Regions from separate parts of the Homo sapiens genome. Here region 2 is linked to region 1. Evidence: fine-mapped expression QTL. A gene starts in region 1. The other region holds a variant in brackets. All regions are shown on one strand. Distances are between the middles of the regions. Region 1 holds the start of LINC02716 (long intergenic non-protein coding RNA 2716). Region 2 holds the start of SLC35C1 (solute carrier family 35 member C1).

Region 1 (9,903 bases):
AAAAATTAGCCGGGCATGGTGGTGGGAGCCTGTAATCCCAGCTACTCAGGAGGCTAAGGCAGGAGAATCGCTTGAACCCGGGAGGCGGAGGTTGCAGTGAGCTGAGATCAATCTACTGCACTCCAGTCTGGGCGACAAAGCAAGACTTCATCTAAAAAAAAAAAAAAGTGAGAGAATAAATGTTTGTTGCTTTAAGCCCCCACGTTTGTGATGCTGTTTTACAGCAGCAATAGGGAACTCCTGCGTCTTCCCAGCCAGCATCCCCAACACCTCTCCTCAGGCCAAGCCCTATTTCTCTTGAGGCTCTGTGCTGTTCAGTGACACTAACCTGCCCCCCAGCCAGCCAGCCTTGGCCCATCAGCACATTCTGTCTCCAGCCTCTGAGATTGGTGCAGGGACGGTATGTGACCTGACCTGAGGCCATGAGACCTGAGACATTTGCTGCCAGCTCCTGAGAAAGAAGCTTCCTCGCTTCCAGAACAAACACTCTCTCTCCTGTTAGACCCGAACAAGGACGCCATCGTGCTCCAATGAGGGTCTGAGAATACATGGATAAGCAGACTGTTTCTCCCACTATACACTCACAGTGGGCTTCTTACACCAGATGGGTGTTTGGGGAGGCGTTCCCACATAGTAAGCAAGCAATCAATTACGCAGCAGACACCAGTTCGGTGTCCTCTAATTCAGTTCACTTCCCCACCTGGAGATAGCGTCAGGTTCCACAGGCTAAGGACTCAGTCCCCAAGATGCTCCCCTTCTCCCGATGCCAATCACAAGTCCCAGAGTATTTTAGCTGTGCTTCTGACCAACTGACTATAATTGAGGTTCCCACAATCCCCTCATTGGTTGGATTAATTTGCTAGAGCAGCTCACAGAACTCAGGGAAACACGTTGACTCACTTATTATAAAGGATACCACAGAGGACACAGATGGGCAATGCATAGGGCAAGGTATGGGGGAGCAGAGCGCCATCCTCCAGGAGCCCCGTGTGTCCAGCTGTCCAGAAGCTCTCCAGACCCTGTCCTTCAGGGTTTTTATGGAGGCTTCATTACACAGGCGTGATTGATTAAGCCATCGGCCATTGGTGATCAACGTAACTTCCAGCCCCTCTCCCCTCTAAGAGAGAATGGGAGTGGGGCTGAAAGCCCCAGTCCTCTAATCCTGCCTTGAACTTTCTGGAGTAGCCCCCATCCTCAAGCTACCTAGGGGCTGCCAGCCAACTGTCAACTCATTAGCATACAAAAAGACACTTACCACTTTGGAGATTCCATAGATTTTAGGAGTAACATGCCAGGAAATGTGGACAACAACTCAATATGTATTTTACGATATCACAAAGGGGAGCCAGCCTCCAGATGAAACCAGCAAAATGGGACCCAGAGTGGAGAGACAAGGACACTGGTCCAGGGGCTACTGATTCAAGCCTCACCTGAAACCCACATCACCTCCAGACTTCTGAGCTATGTGAGCCGCTAATTCCTTCTTGGGTTTAAGCCAGCGAAGTTTCAGCTCTCTACTCCTTGAGACTGAAAGAGTTGACTAACTCCTGTGAGGCTGGATCCATGAAAACAAAGGCTGTCATCATGATCAGGGCTCTCATCCTATCTCAGCTCCATTTCCCTCTGGGTTGGTTTTGCCCTTAGGCAGGCCCTGCTTTCCTAGTGACAAGATAACACCTAAAATCCAAATTCAGCTTAGCAATCCCCCTGGAAAGAAAGTATGTCTTTTATACCAGTCAGGTGTCTGCTGCACCAATGCCATGCAACAAGCACTCTGAAAATCTCAGTTGCTTATAACAACCATTCCTTTCATACTCATGGGTCTGCAGGTTAGTTGGGGGGTTGTTAATATCAGAGTTAGGCTGGACTCCAGTCTCTGGTTAGGTTCAATTTGCCCCACAGTCTCCATCCTGGACTCCAGATGAAGGTGCCATGGTCGCCTGGGTGTACCTTCCTTTCTCATGGTGGGCAGGAGCTCTAGAGGGGCAAGCGGAAACACAAGATACTTCTTTAAGGCCTAGCTTGGAACCCACACATCATCACTTCTACCGACATTCCATTGACCAAAGCAAGTCAGTGGCTGAGCTCACCATGGATGGTGTGGGGAAGAATATTCACCCACAGTGAACCATGCAAGGGAGGGAGGGAATGAAGAAGCCTCAGCAAAACTCCATCAAACACGTCTTCCTCAACAGTGCCTCAAAGATCTTGGAACTGACTCATTGGCCTGGCCTGGGGTCAATGCCTGAGGGAGGTAGGAGTAAGGGTACAGCTAGGGGTCTCCCATATGGGAAGAAGGGTTATTTCCCAAATGGAAGTCAAGGTGTTGCTGACACAAGAAAGGGCAATGGATCCCACATAGGCAATGAATAAATAATTACATAAACCAGCACTCAGCAAACGGCAACGTGAAAATAAATCACCTGAGATGCTATTACAATGCAGATTCTGAGAGCCAGGCATGGTGGCTCCGACTGTAGTCCCAGCTACTAGGGAGGCTGAGGCTGGAGGATCTCTCAAGCCCAGGAGTTCGAGGCTGCAGCAAGCCACAATCGCACCACTGCACTCCAGCCTGGAAGACAGAGCAAAATCTCATCTCTTTAAAGAAAAAAAATTCATTTAATAAAAAATAATGCAGCTTCTGATTCAGTAGGTCCAGGGTGGGGCCTGAGATGCTGCATTTCTTTTTTTTTTTTTTTTTTTTTGAGACGGAGTCTTGCTCTGTCACGCAGGCTGGAGTACAGTGGCGTGATCTCGGCTCAGTGCAACCTCCGCCTCCCAGGTTCAGCAATTCTCCTACCTCAGCCTCCTGAGTAGCTGGGATTACAGGCACGCACCACCATGCCCAGCTAATTTTTAGAGACGGGGTTTCACCATGTTGGTCAGGCTGGTCTCAAACTCCTGATCTCATGATCCACACGCCTTGGCCTCCCAAAGTGCTGGGATTACAAGCGTGAGCCACCGAGCCCAGCTGAGATGCTGCACGTCTAAACAGTCCCAGATGATGCTAGCAAGGACCAGTAGCAATGAGCAAGACTGAAATTGGGAGAGTCTCTCAGCCTTCTGATGCCACATTCTCATTTACAAAATGATAATTCCACCTGCCACACAGACTTTTCTCAGCCAGGAAGATGGTGCCCTCGGGGGGATAAGGTGATGCGACATTTGTGCTGTCACTCACCTCCTGCCTGCCCCCTGCACCTCGAGGCCTCCCTCAGCCCCCAGGAAAGGACTCACAGCCCAGCCAGCAAGGAGACAGGAGGAAGATATCACAAAGTGAGTGCAGCTTCTGTTAACTGCCTTAAGCTGCTCCCTGCAATAATGTTGGTGTAATCCATAAGATTCAATTATGGTTATCAGACAATTAGGCACACCACAGCGAGGTTATTGCATAATTAATGCTCAGTCCCCATCTCAGCCTCTGAGAGTGACACAGGTTACAAGATTCACCTGCCCCGCATCTGGGAGAGGAGCAGGGGCACCCAGGATGGGGAATGACCTCCCTGTGGGCTCAGAGGAGGATGTTCTTAGGACCCCAGAGGCATGGCAAAGGGACAGTGTGTGGCTGAAAGAGCTTGAGTCAGTGTGTGCCCAGGGCCCTCACGCCTGCCATTGTGTTTAGGACTTGGGCTTTAATCTCTGGAGCGAGATTCAAATCCTGCCTCAACTACTGATTGGCTATATGGCATTAAGCACTCGCCTTACATTTTTAAAGCCTCCATCTCCTTGTCTTTTAAAGAAGGGAATTGATGATGTTATGAAAACTGGATGAGAGAGTTTGCATATTGGTTAGATGGTTCCTGCAGTACTATTTTCATTATTTCCCTCTCTGAGCCTCAGTGTCTTCATCTGTAAAATGGGAATAATTAGCCTCACCTTGCCTAGGCTTGAAAGATCAGCCGGTAGTTTGAGACCTGCCTGGGCAATATAGCAAGACCCTGTTCACCACAAAAAAGGAAAAAAAAAAGGATGAAAGATCAGTTTGTGAGTCAAGTAAGACACACATGTGAACGGGATGTGTGGAGTGCTTTGCTAACGCGCCATTGTCTTAGTTACTATGTGCCTGGTTTTCTGCTCAACCCTCCAGGGTACGACTTTGTACAAGTCCCCAGGTCTCAACAGGACAGTGGGTGATCAGCCCACCTGAGAAGTGAAACTCATGATTTGGGTGAGTAGACTAGAGGAGAATCACTTCTTTCTTTCTTTTTTTTTAGACGGAGTCTCGCTGTGTCACCCAGGGATCTCAGCTCACTGCAACCTCTGCCTCACCGGTTCCAGTGATTCTCCTGCCTCAGCCCCCCGAGTAGCTGGGATTACAGGCACACGCCACCACACCTGGCTAATTTGTTATTATTAGTAGAAACGGGGTTTCACCATGTTAGCCAGGCTGGTCTTGAACTCTTGACCTCAGACGATCCACCTGCCTCAGCCTCCCAAAGTGCTGGGATTACAGGCATGAGCCACCATGCCCGGCCTGAGAATCATTTCTTGAGCTATGATCTGTAACATTCAAATGAGCCTCAACGGACACAAAACAGAAAAATCATCAAAAATGTCGGTGAAAAGTTCAGGTGGGAGAACTCAGGTGATGGTGCAGACAGAAGCAAGTAGGGGAGAAAGCTGGCTTCAGGGAGAGTGGTTAGGCCTTTGTGAGAAAGACTGGGGACTTCTCATATCATCCTCTGTGTCCCAGTTCCCAAAACACACACGCACATGGGCACATGCATGCAGGCACACAAAAACAAGCCCATACACCAGACGAAAAAATACAGATGCAGGTACACACACATGGACATGGACATGTGTGTGCCTGTGCCCATATAAACAAACATTAGTGCACACACACACTCACACACACACAGGCTCGGGCAGTATGTGCTCACACACAACCATACACACAGATACGCACAGAGGTACATTCACACACAGACCAACACACACAGGCACACAGATGCATGCACGCATGCACGTGCGCGCACACACACACACACGTGCACCCACCCTCAGTGATAACCTTCCAATCCACTGGCCTCTCCGAAATTAGCACAGACCATTTTCCCACGACCCTTTCTCGCTGAGCGTGTGATTCCAAAACTGTCCACAAGAAGGTGCTCGGGAGCCAGAATTCAGGCGTTCCCGGCCCGCGGACGCTTAGAGAGGGGAGCTTCGGAGTTATGGGGGGACCCACCCTTCCATTTAATAACTGAGAAAGCCACGGGAGGGGACTTGCTGGGCTCACAGCCAGTGATCCCTGCCCTGTTTCCTTATGGGGACTGCGGTCAGAAATGGGGAGTGGGGCAGAAACTGTCACTGTCACGGTCCTGTTTAGAGAGGAAGGTCGGAGAAACCAGTGCCGTGGAAGGCTCTGGGGCGTTGACAGGCGCTGTCCCCAGCTCACCGGCTCTATGACCCTGGGTAAGTTACCTGGCTTCTCTGTTCCTCAGTTTTCTCGTCTTCCCTGACCCAGGCTTTCCCGACTCCTCTAGGGGCCCCTTCCCCTCTCCATGAACACCTTCAGATCTCGGACTGTTTTCTCCACTCAAGTGGCATCTCAGCTATCCCCTCCCGGGTTAGGCCTCCCTGGCCCCTATTTAACGGTGTCCCCACCCCCACCACTATCTTGTTTGTACCAACACTTGCTGCCTGACAATGCACACTTGTTCATTTGTTCACGTTTATTTTGTCTTCTCCAGAAGAATGGAAACTTCGTCAGAGCAGGGACGTGAGGGTGAACTGCTCACCCGGGCACCGCTGGCGACCGGAACCCAGCTCCCTCCGGGCTCCGGGAGAGGCGGCCTCAGCTGTGTGCTGGTGCTGCCCTCCAGCGGCGCTGGGTCCCCATGGCACCTGGCTTTCTCCTGCTCCCCAGGGGCCTTTTCTTCTCCCGCCCACCTGTCACCAGCCGCCAGGGCAAGTCTCTGTGTGACTCTAGGGTGAAGGTGGAGGGACCTTGCCTCCGAGGATTCATCCCACCCGGATTCCGATGAGTGAGGGACCCTCTCTGGCACCTGGTGTTTGAATGGCCAGCCTCACAGTTAATAAAGACAAGTTTGGTATCAGCTGTGGGATCCGTCCAGAAAAAGACACCTTTGGGGCAGAAATATAATGGTGCCTGTCTCGACATAGTCTAATAAGGAAAGAAAGACAAGCCAGTCCAACGGTCCCATTTTACACATGAGGTCACTTCATCCCCACCTAGGACAGGAGGGTACAACGGCCTGGCCTAAGATAACCCTAGAATATGGTCACTCATTCTTCCACCCACTGAGAACCTCAGGGCAGTAGAGTTTTATGCAAAGCATGTGGTCCTGAAAAACTTGCATAATTCAAAGCGTGCATAATTTCTGACTAATTTTGCCAGAGAAATGAATGCAAAGTAGAAAGGATAGGTTGCATACATTACTCCAATTGTGGCATATTTTTGCCTTAATGCTGCTTTTTATTTCCCTGGCATTATCGCTAATATTTCATAACGCACTCTCTGCTAAATTAACAGTGCAGCATTTCCTGCCGGTGGTTTGGCCTTCTTCATAACGTTTTATCACATCTCACTTCCTTTCCAATGTTATCGATTTTCAGGTGCGTTTTTCAGCACCACCACTTAAAGAACACTTGGATGACATTGTTACAGGATATGGGTAAAATATTTAAAGTTATAATAACTGTGAACATTGAGAAAATGGCACACCAGTCACCAGAATCTCCTGCAGAAATTAGAAATTCAGAGGCATGTAAACAACAGTGCATGCATATAGAAAGCAGGTATTTCTATTTAATAACCAAAGCAACGTCGCCATGTGGCAGGTTTACAGTCCTCATTTAACAGCTCACTTAGTTCCTCCGACTCAAGGAAACTGCAATTCTTGACAGGTTTTTTTTTAACTGAGGGGCTTGGCATTATTTCCAGCTTAGTGCATAAACATGTATTAGCATTTTTATATTGCACCTTGCCAAAGTCACAGTTTAGACTCCCATAAACAGTGACTTCACCCTAAATGGTCACCCTAAATGGTTAAGGCTGTGTCCTTAACCCCAGAAGGGTGGAAATGTATGACTCCACCTAGTCATCTCAGATACGGATTTCAGAAATCTCAGCCACCCACCTCATACTTACACAGGGACCTTTTTGGAGGCAGCATCATCTGAGGCCGCTCTTGCCCAATTTGGCTGGCCCCACCTCCTCCCCAACGTCATCTTCTCTTGCAGTCTAGAGAGGGGGGCTACTCCCCCAATATAGCATCCATATTTAGATCCATGTTGGAGGGTGGGTAGAAAGGGGAGGTAGGATGAGGGAAAATTGAGTCTCAGTTTCACACATTTGTAAGATCGTCAGACTTTCCACATTGCCAAGAAACTCGTCAGCACAACCGCTGTGAATTGGCTTCTTGGCCTTCGTCTGCCCAGAATTGCTTCCAGAATGGCTCCTTCAGCTTGGCCTGAGCTTGGCCCCAGAAAGAGTGCCACGGGCCCTAGGAAGGAGGAAAAGTGGGGCATTCAGGGCAGGCTCTGAACCCACTTGGATTCCAGTCCTGATTCCATTTGCATGTGACCTTGAGCAAGTCTCTATGCAAGGCACTTCACCTTTCTGGGCCTCAGTTTCCACCTCTGTCAAATGGGGATAATAATACCATCTACTTCCCAGAATTGGTGCCAGAATGAAAAGCAGTCCCTGCTGTGATAGTGTCTAGAACAGAGTAAGTGCCCAATAAATATTCCTTCGCTCTTGTTGCAGTTAGAAAAGCGACTGGATGAGGCGTACATTTACTGGTACCCTGGGATGTATAAGGGCCAGTGTCCGGGTGAGGCGATCCTGCCCCTCGGAGAATTTATGGTCCAACTTTGGAGAGTGAACCTGCCCTCCCACTAATTCAAGAATTCACCAGCCAGGAGAACTGCATGTGGAATTGCCCGGTCCAGCCCTGACTTTGCGCAAGTGTCCATCAAGTCTCCTTCTGCCTCTGGGCTGCCTCTGAGACTTGAGGGGGAGTAAACAGGAGCCTAGGGGTCTCTCCACCCTCCAGGTGCCCCATCAGGCCGGCACCTCCCCACCAGCCCACCCCTCCCCTTGCAGCAGCAAATCTGCAAATGTGCCTTGCAAGCATGTCCAGTGGGCCAGAAGCCACACTCATCCTCCCCACCCCTTCAGAGGACAGCAGAGGTGCCTGGCCCAAAGGCGGTGGTTGGAGCCTGGGCTTCCTGCCTGGGGTGGGGTGGAGAGGGATCTGCCTTCTCTTCTGGGCCCCTGCCCCCCAGGTTTTTCTTCCTCGATACTCACGTTCCTTTCCCTGGACAATCCCTTGCTCTATGAGGGCCTCAGCTTTCCCCTCTGAAAAATGGGCAGCCTGGACTTCTCCAGCTCCTCCAGCTAAGACATTCATCTCCCTATCTCCACACCAGCCTCGCCGCCAACACCCCGGTCCCTCTCTCTCTCCTCTGCTGTTGTGGGGGCCTGTCCCTGGGGTCACTGAGGCTACTGCTGGCTGGGCTCCCAAGCACCAGAGAAGGACTCCACAGAACAATAGCAGAAGGAAGGGGGCCATTCTTCAGGAGGAGAGAATGAAATGGCCTAGCTCAGCCATGCCTGCCCTAGGTCCAAAGCCCCCAGCTCCATTCCTGCCTCTTCTGCCATGTTCCCATGTTTCTACATATGCATGTCTCCCACCAGACAAGGTGGTCCTGAGAGCAGGAGACACCCAGGCTATCCTCGCTGTATGCCTAGCACCTGGGTGCTGGGACCTGTTTCCTGGTCGGACAGAATGGGCGCCCACCCAGCAGGTGCAAGGATGGTAATGTTTTCCCGGCCTGTAGCCTGAATTCCAAGTGTCCACTCAGGGCCAAACCATGCAGTCAGAAAAGGATTCTCACTGGGCAAGTGGCTCAGGCCTATAATCCCAACACTTTGGGAGGCCAAGGCAGGTGGATCACTTGAGGCCAGGAGTTCGAGACCAGCCTGACCAACATGGCAAAACCCCCTCTCTACTAAAAATACAAAAATTAGCCGGGCATGGTGGCAGGCACTTGTAGTCCCAGCTACTCGGGAGGCTGAGGCAGGAGAATCGCTTGAACCCAGGAGGTGTAATTTGCAGTGACCCGAGATCGCGCCACTGCGCTCCAGCTTGGGTGACAGAGCAAGAATCTCTCTCAAAAAACAAAGCAAAAAGAAAGGACTCTCACAGTGAATAACCTAAGTCTACAAAAATAAAAGAAAGGACTCTACCTCAGGCCCACACTTCCCTCCCCTCTCTGCCTCCCTTCCCCTCTCCCCCAAGCCCCTCTTCTGCTTGCCTCCAGCCTCCCACCTAGAGACTCAGTCATTTCTGGCTCTTTCTGACCCTGCTTTAGAATGAGAAAAAATATGGGGAAGCAGGGGCTTTTGATCATAAGGACAGGGGAAAGGAGATGGGATCCTTATCATGGCCTAGCTTCCGGCAAGATGTCTAAAACTCACATAGAATTGTCTCCTAGGGGAAATCACCCACCTGCATAATTTTCATATCCAATAATACTATAAGAGTGTCTATGTCCTTCCTACCTTGAGTTACATTTCTAAAAATCTTTATCATGTGAGTCACGAAAGGTGCCAGCTGCCAATAAGTGTGCATGGGGAGAGGACAGATAGCTGGGAGTAGAGATTTATGTTGCCTGATAATACTAAAGAATTGCTATACTCAGTTTCATCAAACCCAGGTCCTAATGTCAGCCTGAAATTCTTCCTCCTCCAGGAAGCCCTTCTGGACTGGGAGGGAAAGTCTATGATACAAGAAACAGTGTCTGATGTTTCCCAGATCCACCTTTTTTTCTCCTGTACCACGCCCACCACCTAGACAGCCCTTTCTCCATAGGTGTCCAAATGCCCCGAGTCTGTCAGTGCCAGGCTTGCATGCCATTATTTCCCAGATGAAA
Region 2 (10,940 bases), 37 kb after region 1:
AGAGATTGGAGACAGGGGTATACTTTGGCCTCCATAGAGAGCCCACACTGTCCCCCACACACGCAGCACTGACTGCCCCTGGGCCTCTCTCAGCGAAGTGCATCTGGCCTATATACAAGATATATCTCTTCCCTCCAGTTCAAGGTGGCAGCAGTCATCAGACAAGTTCCTGCTAATGTGCTAAGGAGAAGGCCCTTCCAGATCACCAGGGCCTCTCAGGGACAAGTTTGCCCTGTCTGTCACTAAATTGTTTGTCATGGTGAACTCTCGGGCATAAGAGAGGAGAGACTGGAACAGATACGAATTGCTCTTAATGAACCAAAACCCACAGCTTCAAAGGAAAATCCCAGAGGTAGACTCTCCAGGTGGGGTTGAGGAGACCAGCTCAGTCCCTCTTGAGTCTTTCTTTCCCCAAAGGGATATTTTAGTTCCAAAAGTGACAAGGTAACCAGATGGTATCCTCCAGGTGGAGAACAGCCCACAACTAGGAAGCAGAGTCTCATTCCTTGAGGAGGAAGAGGGGAGTGCTAGTACCCGGGGCTAGTGGAAGAGGGTAGGGTGTGGGCCCGGCTCGTTGTGGGGCAGCTGTTTACTTCACTGCAGCCTGCAGCCCTCCCATTTCCCTACAGCCCACCCAGGGCTGCGCTCAGCTCCAGTGAAGGTTTGTGCAGTTAGGATCTGAGAGTTTAAGCGTACTATATAGGTTTTACCTTTTTATTCTGGAAATTTGCAAATGTACACAAAAGTAAGGAAACTCTTATAATGGGTCCTTGTGTATCTACGCCTAGCTACAACTATCAATGGCTTATCTTATTTAATCTATCAACCTTTTAAAAAAAATCTTTTTGAGGTCAGGCACGGTGGCTCACGCTTGTAATCCCAGCACTTTGGGAGGCCGAGGCCGGCGGATCACCTGAGGTCAGGAGTTAGAGAACAGCCTGGCCAACACGGCGAAACCCGGTCTCTACTAAAAATACAAAAAATAACCGGGCGTGGTGGTGGACGCCTGTAATTCCAGCTATTCGGGAGGCTGAGGCAGGAGAATCGCTTGAACCCGGGAGACGGAGGTTGCAGTGAGCTGAAATAGCACCACTGCACTCCAGCCTGGGCGACGGAGCGAGACTCCGTCCCAAAAAGAATAAATAAATAAAAATAAAAAATATTTTTGGTAAGTATTCTTAGTATTTTAAAACAAATCCCAGCCATGACATCATCTTACCCGTTAATTAAATGGCACTAATTAAATGGTGCTTGAAATATTACAAACATCTATGTTCGACCATACCACCTAGAGTTCTGGGCAAGAAGGTTGGGACCCACAGGTCAAGCCTAGCCCCTTAGTTTTACCATGAAGATAACTCAGGCCGTCGGAGAAAGTGGCCTGCCCAACGCAGGTGCTAGAGCGCGAACCAAGAGAAGTCGATCCTCCTGGTCTCCCCGGCTGCCTGGTGAGTGGCAGACCACAGGCTAGACTTCCCAGGCCCCGGCCCTGGAAGGGGCGGGGAACCCTCCCCCTCACTGCCAGCTGGAAGAATCCGAGCGGTCCCCGCACGCACTTCTGGAAGTGCAAGCCGGTAGCGCGGCGGGCCAGGGATACAGCCAAGTCCCGGGACGTGCCAGCTGCGGTAACTGAAGCCGGGTCCCGGGCGGGCGGGGGTACCAGGGACAGGAGTAGCCTTGGAAAGAGGAGAGGGCCTCCTCCCACGACCGTCCGGATCACCGCCTCTCCGCCGGCACCCCCGGGGCCCATGCCGCGAACAGGCCGGCGAGGCTGGCAAGGTGCCCGGGCCCGGGGCGGAAAGCAGGAAGTCGATCCCGCGGGCGCGGCCCAGGGTGCGGCGCTGCAGATGCAGCACGGGGTCGCGGGGCGGGCGCCCAGTGCACCGGAGGAGGTGAGCGCCAGGTCGCCTTCGCGGCCCGGGGACACAGGCAGGGACGCGGGAGCTGATGCGGCTGGACCGGCCGGGGAAACAGTATTTTCTGGAAGGGGTAAGAGATGCTGTCTTGAGCCTTTGGAATCTCGGATCCGGGCCGCCCAGAGGACCTCGACAGGAGCACAGGGAGGACAAACTGAAGTCCGAGAGAGGCGGCGTGGCCTCCGGCCTCGGGGAGCGCTGCCGGGGGTCTCGGGCTTGGGAGAGGGCCTGGGGGCGGTGAAAATGGGGGGAAAGGAGGGGACCACAACATTGTTATGGAAGAGTGAGCTCGGATTGGCAGAGGGACGCGGGGCTGCAACGCGAGTCTCCGGAGGTGGAGGGGTCCAGGCTGATGTAGCGCCGCCCGGGTCCTGGGTCGGGGTTCCGGGAAGTGGACCTGCGAGCCAAGCCTAGCCAAGTCGGGGGACGGAGGCTCCGGGGCGGACGGAGCTGAGGGTGGGCAGGCGAGGTTGATGGAGCCCTTCCAGGAAGCAGGGCGAGGCTCAAGCACCCAGAAAAACCTGTGGCTGCCGAGGTCCCCCGCCAGCAGCGGGCAGCGGAGCGCAGGGGCGGGGCTGGGGACTGGCGAACTCCGCCTCTCTGGGGCTGTCGCTTTAAGGGCAAGGCGGGGCGTGCGGGCCCTTTAAGGCCACGTGGGGGCGTGTCAGGAAGTGAGTCCAGGGCCCGCCTCCCGGGGAGTCGGCCTCGGATGTCCGGAGGCTCCTGGGCTGAGCCGGCGACAGAGCCCGGGAAGGCAGCGAGACGTGGGCGCCGGCCCAGCCCCCTCCCGCGTCCTTCAGCCCCAAGCCCCGAGCCCCTCTGACCCTTCCGCAGCCCTCCCTCCAGCCGCGCCCGGCCTCCGGCAGCTCCCTGTACGCCTCCCTCCCCCTGCCCGCCCCTCCCTCCCACAGCCGCCCATGACGCCCTCTCGGCACCTCTTCCCACTCTGCCACGCGTCCTTTTCCTGCACCTTCGCCCCGCGTACCTACTCCTGCCCCGCCCTGCCATTCCTCTCCCCTCCCTTCTCTCTGCGACCCCTCCCTGTTAGGCCCCAGCCTCTTCTCCCCTCACAGGTCTTCTCTGTCCTGGCCTCACCGCCTTATCCTATTCCTCTCCCTTGCCCTGTGTCTTGTCTCAGAGCCCCCTCGGGGTGGGAGTAGGTTGTGGAGCAGCACAACTGGGCTCACCCCAAAGCAGAACTTCTCAATCCATGAGGACAATGGGGAGGCCTTTAGGCCAGCCCACATGTGACAATGGAGGGCTGCGGCTTCCTTGCGGAGAGCACAAGTGAGCTCACTGCCCTGGACTCCAGGGAATCAGAGTTCTGGCCGCGGGGTGACCCAGCTCCTCTGCTACCATGAATAGGGCCCCTCTGAAGCGGTCCAGGATCCTGCACATGGCGCTGACCGGGGCCTCAGACCCCTCTGCAGAGGCAGAGGCCAACGGGGAGAAGCCCTTTCTGCTGCGGGCATTGCAGATCGCGCTGGTGGTCTCCCTCTACTGGGTCACCTCCATCTCCATGGTGTTCCTTAATAAGTACCTGCTGGACAGCCCCTCCCTGCGGCTGGACACCCCCATCTTCGTCACCTTCTACCAGTGCCTGGTGACCACGCTGCTGTGCAAAGGCCTCAGCGCTCTGGCCGCCTGCTGCCCTGGTGCCGTGGACTTCCCCAGCTTGCGCCTGGACCTCAGGGTGGCCCGCAGCGTCCTGCCCCTGTCGGTGGTCTTCATCGGCATGATCACCTTCAATAACCTCTGCCTCAAGTACGTCGGTGTGGCCTTCTACAATGTGGGCCGCTCACTCACCACCGTCTTCAACGTGCTGCTCTCCTACCTGCTGCTCAAGCAGACCACCTCCTTCTATGCCCTGCTCACCTGCGGTATCATCATCGGTGAGTGGCAGCTGGGGCCACGGGGGATAGAGTGGTCATGGGGACTGAAGCAGTGAAGAACAACTCTTCTAGGCATCCTAGGACTTCATCTGTCCCAGCTCCTTTGGTGCAGCAGTCATAGGAGAAAGAGCCTGGGGGCACAGAGAGAGCAAGTAACTTACTAAAGGTCACCCAGCAAGTTAGGAGCCCAGCCGGGGCAAGAACAATAGTAATAATAATAGTAACAACAGCAGCAAAAGCAACTGACATTTGTTGAGTGATTAAAATGTGCCAGGCACATGGATCTTAGCCATATTAACTCAGCTAATCTTCATAACAAGATGGGATTATAATCCACATTTTACAGAGGGAAAAACCAAGGCACAGAGAAGTTAACTAACTTGTCCAAGATCACCCAGCTAATAAGTGGCAGAGCTGGGATCTGAACTCAAGCAATCTGGCTTCACAGTTCACATGCCCGACCACTGTACTTTATTGTTTCTCAAGAGCTCAGGTGTCCTGATTTCCCAGCCAGTGCTCTTAGTAGAGGACAATACGTCTTTTAATAAATATACCATCACTCTCTGCCAGCTCAGGATAGCGCCTGAGACAGTAGCAAGCAATATGCTTTGAGAGGCCTCAGCTGTCTTCCTGGACTTGACCCTCAGAAAATAATAATTATTGATGGGGAAATTATGCTAATTATTTCACATATAGCATCTCCTTTGTTCTCCCAGAGATCCCCTGGGTTGTGGCATCACTACCAGCGGTCATCTCTATACAAACAAGGAAACTGAGGCTCAGAGATGTTACATTACTTGCCCACGGCCACACAGCTAGCAAGCAGCCAGGCTGGGATGCAAACCCAGATTGGCCAGACTCCCAGGCCTGTGCTTCTATCCCCTCTGCTCGTCTTGGAGGTTAGAACTGCAGTATTCAATGCAGTAGCCATTGGCCACTTATTTAAATTAGTTAAAATTAAGCAAAATGTTAAACATTCACTTCCTCATTTGCAGATGTTACAACCT[G/C]ATTTTCTAGCCACATTTCAAGGGCTCAGTAGCCAAATGTGGCTGAGGGCTATGGTATGGGACAGCACAGGTTAGATGGGCCCATATTTTACTGGGCCCCATGCTGCGTTAGAGAGCCTCCAGCATCCCATTCCCTCCGAGTCTTCCCAGGGCTGCGTCATCTAGGAATGGGGTCTTCATTTGAACCTATGCTGGTTTTTCCTGGTGCTATAAAGTTTATCTTATTTGGCCTACATATCATATTCTTTGCTGATGGCTCAGGGTCCCAGGCTAGATGCACCGGTTGGTGGGGGAAGGGACCCATCCCATGCCACCTGTCCTAGAAAATGTTTCCCCTTGTTGAGCAGCTGCTGGATCTAGGGCTGCTGGGTCTAAGTCCAAGAGGGGAGAAGGGAGAAGGTCACAGTTAGAGTAGGGGAAGCTGCAAGACCCCCCCTGCCAGAACTCTCCCAGCCTGCTTCCATTTCCCTCTCCAGGGAACAGGTGTACCTCCCCTCCTCCCTGTCCTCCTCAGATGCCCCAGGGCTCTCTACTTCATTCCTGCTGACCCTGCCAGGAGTGGCCTCAGGGGTAGAGGCTCCTAGTTGGAGAATTTGCTTGCAGGAAGGTGAAGACACTAGGGTAACTGGGCCCAAATCCCAAAGGTAATCCAAGTAACCAGTGGTGAGGTTCTGAGAATGGTGCATTCACGGGCGTGCCTGACTGGGACAGGGGCCAGGGAGGTGGACGCTCTCTGCCAGCCCAGGACCTGGCTCCCTATCTGCAATGTTTCCTCTTTCTTCCTCCTTGTAGGGGAAGACGAGTCTCAGGCAACTATTCTAGGCCTCCCCTCCTAGCCCCCCATGTCACACAGTAACTTTCAAAGCTCCTTCTGGGCCAGGCACAGTGGCTCATGCCTGTAATCCCAGCACTTTGGGAGGCTGAGGCAGGTGGATCACCTGAGATCAGTAGTTCGAGACCAGCCTGGCCAACATGGTGAAACCCTGTCTCTACTAAAAATACAAAAAATTAGCCGGGCGTGGTGGCATGTGCCTGTAATCCCAGCTACTCGGGAGGCTGAGGCAGGATAATTGCTTGAACCCGGGAGGCAGAAGTTGCATTGAGCCAAGATCGCGCCACTGCATTCCAGCCTGGGCGACAGAGCAAGACACAGTCTCAAAAAAAAGTTCTTTCTGGGCAAGAGTCGCTCTAGAACATTGATGTTGCAGTTGCTTCTGGACTCAGAAGGTAACCACCAGGAGGGCTAGGGGTGCTGTAGCCAAGCAGGTGAGTGGGTGGTGCAGCCCTCTGCCCCCCTCACCCTACCCCCAGCAGGTCTGTGGGTACCCCTTGTGCAAAGGTTCTGTCAAGAAAGAGGAGGGTCGGGCTCTGTGGTTGGGCTGGGCATGGTGGCTCATGCCTGTAATCCCAGCACTTGGGGAGGCTGAGGCGGGCAGATCACCTGAGGTCAAGAGTTCAAGACCAGCTTGGCCAACATGGTGAAGCCCCCTCTCTACTGAAAATACAAAAATTAGCCAGGCATGGTGGCGCATCCCTGTAATCCCAGCTACTCAAGAGGCTGAGGCACGAGAATCGCTTGAACCCAGGAGGCGAAGGTTGCAGTGAGCCAAGATCGCACCACTGTACTCCAGCCAGGGTGACACAGCGAGACTCCGTCTCAAAAAACAAAGAGAAAAAGAGAAGAGTGCTGTGTGTTGAGTGCCTATGATGTAGGAAGTATCCTGTCTCCTTTAATACAACCACCTCCATAACAACTTTCATTCATTCATTCCACGACTAGTAATTGGTGGCTAAACACATGCCAGGCACCATGCCAGGCTTTGGGGATACAAGTTTGGAAAAGGTAACCTCAGCTCCTACACTCCTGGAGGGCATGGTGGTGACAGTTACGCTAGCATAGTAAGGGCTGTGATGGGGCATGCATAAAAGGGGCTGTGGGAGCTCTGGGCAAGGGAGGGGACCCGGGGACAGGGCAGTCTAAGCAGGCCTTCTGGAGGAAGTTTAGAAACTGGGTTTAGAGGAAGAAGTAGGGACAGAACATTCTAGATAGAAGGAAGAGCACGTGCACTTCTTCATGGCTGGGCCACAGCAAGACTCACCAGACACAAGGCTGCCCAGTCAGGCCGACTCCACGTGGTGCAGGTCCTAAGAGCTGTGGTGAGTGAGTGGAATTTCTCCTGAAGGCAGTGGAGAGCCACAGAGAGGCTTCACACCAGGGCACAGCCTGGACCGATCTGGACTTCAGGATGATCATATCAGTTGCAAGGTGGAGAGTAGATTGGCTGGAGTGGAGGACAGGGAGGTGACCCAGAGAGCTCAGAGTGGTTAAGTAACTTCTCCCAGGCCACTCAGCTTCTAAATTGCAGAGCCTGATTGGAGGCTAAATCCCTCTGACCCCAAAACTTTCCCCACTGCCCCGTGTTGCCAGATGCTGTGGCAGGAAGTATAACATGCATTGTTCAGCCCCTGGCTTCTGGGAGCATGGGATCTGGCTAAAAAGACCAGACTGTCACCATGGGCAGGGGCCCAGCAGCCCAGAGCAGGCAAGGGGCTTTGCAGGAAAGCGAGGCAGTAAGAGTCCAGGTTCTGGGATTATCAGGAAAGGATTCCCCAGGAGAAGCCAACTTTGACCTTGACAGATGAGTAGAATCCCCCAGAAAGGAGGAGGGTGTTTCTGGCACAGGACATGAACAAGGACACTGAGGCCCAGGGTGAGAAGCAGGGAGACGAGCAGGGAAGCTGGGGCGACCATAGGACAGAGGAAGGGCCTGCACCCCCGCCTGCCACGCCAAGGAGTGTAGTCCTCATGGCAGAAGTGGGGAGCCACGGAAGCTCTTTGAGCAGGAAGTGACACAAGATGAGAGTCTCAGAGTCACTGCCCCAAATGACACAAGAGATTCTAACTTAATGTGCCCCATGATGACATCATAGGCTCCCATTCCATGCAAGAAGCAGCCAAGGCTTAGACACTGGAAGTCATTTACGCAGGGTCACCTTAAATCACATTAACCACTAAGTGGCACTCATTCTTCAGAACTCAGTTCAACTGTTATTTTCAGATGCCCCAGGCCAGCACAGTCGCCCACTTACAGGCTCTCACAGCACCTTGTACTACTTTATGGACCTCATTACAATTCTTACAATTGTAATTAAAGAAGTAACTGGGAAGATTTGTTTTAATGTCTTTCTCCTCTGCTAGCAGATAAGCTGCCAGAGGAGGTTTTCTTGCCCTGGGCGGCTCCCATAGTTCATGTGGAGTGCTTTGCCTGCAGTGGAGACTCTGGCTGTGCTTATTGGAGGGAGGCCTGGGGAGGAACGGGGAGGGCCGCAATACTCAGTCTGTGAAATTTGGTGTCTGATCCTCTGTCCTTCTTCCTCCTCGTCCTCATCCCTCTTCCTCACCCTTCCCCACTCCTCCTCTCCCCACTGCAGGGGGCTTCTGGCTTGGTGTGGACCAGGAGGGGGCAGAAGGCACCCTGTCGTGGCTGGGCACCGTCTTCGGCGTGCTGGCTAGCCTCTGTGTCTCGCTCAACGCCATCTACACCACGAAGGTGCTCCCGGCGGTGGACGGCAGCATCTGGCGCCTGACTTTCTACAACAACGTCAACGCCTGCATCCTCTTCCTGCCCCTGCTCCTGCTGCTCGGGGAGCTTCAGGCCCTGCGTGACTTTGCCCAGCTGGGCAGTGCCCACTTCTGGGGGATGATGACGCTGGGCGGCCTGTTTGGCTTTGCCATCGGCTACGTGACAGGACTGCAGATCAAGTTCACCAGTCCGCTGACCCACAATGTGTCGGGCACGGCCAAGGCCTGTGCCCAGACAGTGCTGGCCGTGCTCTACTACGAGGAGACCAAGAGCTTCCTCTGGTGGACGAGCAACATGATGGTGCTGGGCGGCTCCTCCGCCTACACCTGGGTCAGGGGCTGGGAGATGAAGAAGACTCCGGAGGAGCCCAGCCCCAAAGACAGCGAGAAGAGCGCCATGGGGGTGTGAGCACCACAGGCACCCTGGATGGCCCGGCCCCGGGGCCCGTACACAGGCGGGGCCAGCACAGTAGTGAAGGCGGTCTCCTGGACCCCAGAAGCGTGCTGTGGTGTGGACTGGGTGCTACTTATAGACCCAATCAGAATACGGTGGTTGAGAAGGAACCAGTGTTTACAAGTAATATCAGAAAGTTGAAGGAACCAGTGTTTACAAGTAATACCAGAAAGTTGCCAAACCCTTCTCTATCCTCTCGTATTTCTGAGTTTTTGTCCTTCCCGAGGGAGCACCCTAGTGAGAGTTGAACCCCTTCCTTCTGCCTCCAGGGCCTGTCTGCCTCCACATCACTCTGAGGACAGGGACAGGCAACAACCTTGAAGGGACAGCAATGGCAAAGCCACAAAGGCTTCACTGTACTCAGGGGAGATGGCCCTACCACAGCCACCTGGAGAGGGTTGGGAAGCCTTCCGTCTGCGGTGGGCAGGCAGCCTCACCCTGGGCCCACAGACCGGCCTTCCTTTGGAGGAAAGTGTGGCCTGGACTGAGGGAGGAAATGAGCGAGTTCCCTCTGACACCAGCAGATCCCCAGGGGCTGCTGGGCAGTGGCCTGGGAATGGGGTGGATTGTGAGAAAGTGCTCACCATCTATACACCCTGTATGTCCAGCTTTTGAACACAAGGGAACCATGCTTCTCTTAGAGGTTAAGCAGGGTCATTAACATCCTCCCCCAGTCCCTAACATCACATTGTCCTGCGTGGCTCCTCTGGCCCTGAGTGGCACCTGTCCCTCTGGTCTCCCAGCACCTGGCCCAGGTAACAGCCTTCTGAAAGCAGAGCCAAGGAGCTGCTTCTCTCTTCTCCCAGTTCTACCTCCCCAGAAGCCTTCCTCCCCAGGTGGGGCTGATGGAGCAAGGGTCCAGACTAGGAGCCTTCCACCCCAGCTGTGTCTGGCGCCCCTAGATCTCTGCAAGGGAGGTGTTACAGCTGGTTCTGAGCCGCTTGCCTTGTGATGGTAAGACACCAACCTTTACATTCTTCCCTGAGGTTGTGGCTGACAGAGCCTGCTTGGCCCCACTGTTAGTCCAGCGAGCTCCTATATCAAAATGCCGTAGGCCGGGTGGCTTACAAACAACAGAAACGTATTGCTCACAGTCCTGGGGGGCTGGGACGCCCAAGATCAAGAGGCCAGCAGATTCGGACTCCGCTGAGGGCTGTTTCCCGATCCATAGATGGTGCCTTCTCGCTGTATCCTCAATGGTAGAAGCACAAACAAGCAAGCTCCTTCCTGCCTCTTTTATAAGGACTCCAACCCTGTTCATGAGGGTTCCGCCCCCATGACCCAATCAGCTCCAAAGGCCCCACCTCCTAATACTGTCACCTTGGGGGTGAGAATTCCAATGTGAATTTGCAGGGGGAGTGGGGGACACACACAAATTTCGGGGCCATACCACCCTTCACCACACCCTCCTGCGCTCAGGGTGGCTTGCAGTCCCTGGCCCTTCTGGTGGGCATTTGGTATGTCCTTTCTCTTGGGGTGATTTCTGATGTTTTTACTCTATATAGTGAAAAGCTAGGGAGAGCGGGTCTTCTCCCCCCTCCCTCTCCAGTCCCCTCACAATCCCAGATGGGTTCTAATGCAGCTGCTGGGGCCTGATGCCCTGAGTTGTTTGTGATTCAATAAAGAATCCATAAGATCCTGTGTGTGTGGCCTGAGGGAAGAGGCAGCAGGGCTGGAGAGGATTTGTGAACAGGGCCTGGGGGTGGAGGGGAGGTTGGGACCTGTCAGAGGCAGCAGGGCTGAAGAAGGTTTGTGAACAGGGCCCTGGGGTGGAGGGGAGCTGGGGATCTGTCAGGAAGGAGGGCTCATCCCTGCCTTCACCAAGCCCACCCACCAGCAGGCAGCCTTTCTAGGAGCTGGTTCTTTCTAAGGATACCAGGCTCCTTCCTGGAAGGTAGGTGACCAGACTTGAAGTTTCCTATTAGTCGTAATTGCCATTTACTGGATGCTTGTTGGGGGCCATAGGCTGTGCTGAGTGTTGTACATCCACCCTTGTGAAGTTGAGAAGTTGTGAAGTTCATCTTCACAACTCCCCGTGGCCCCTTAGGTGGGAGCCGTCACTGATCTGTTTTTTTTACACATGAGGAC

The links. PIP is the estimated chance that this variant, and not a neighbour inherited with it, causes the effect.
Region 2: its variant is fine-mapped to the expression of LINC02716 in putamen (GTEx, PIP 0.98). The same link has a PIP of 0.9 or more in subcutaneous fat.

Annotation. Positions count from the first base shown.
Region 1 is chr11:45,766,300-45,776,202 of GRCh38, forward strand. It overlaps LINC02716 (long intergenic non-protein coding RNA 2716), which reads left to right and starts at 5,133. Exons shown (of 2, transcript NR_027134.1): 1 at 5,133-5,415; 2 at 5,694-6,059. RefSeq lists an enhancer at 4,825-5,326.
Region 2 is chr11:45,802,529-45,813,468 of GRCh38, forward strand. It overlaps SLC35C1 (solute carrier family 35 member C1), which reads left to right and starts at 2,621. Exons shown (of 2, transcript NM_018389.5): 1 at 2,621-3,808; 2 at 8,248-10,488. The coding sequence starts at 3,274. The coding sequence ends at 8,807. RefSeq lists enhancers at 1,416-1,575, 4,840-4,899 and silencers at 1,746-1,915, 2,646-2,875. The variant G/C (reference allele first, on the strand shown) is at 4,816.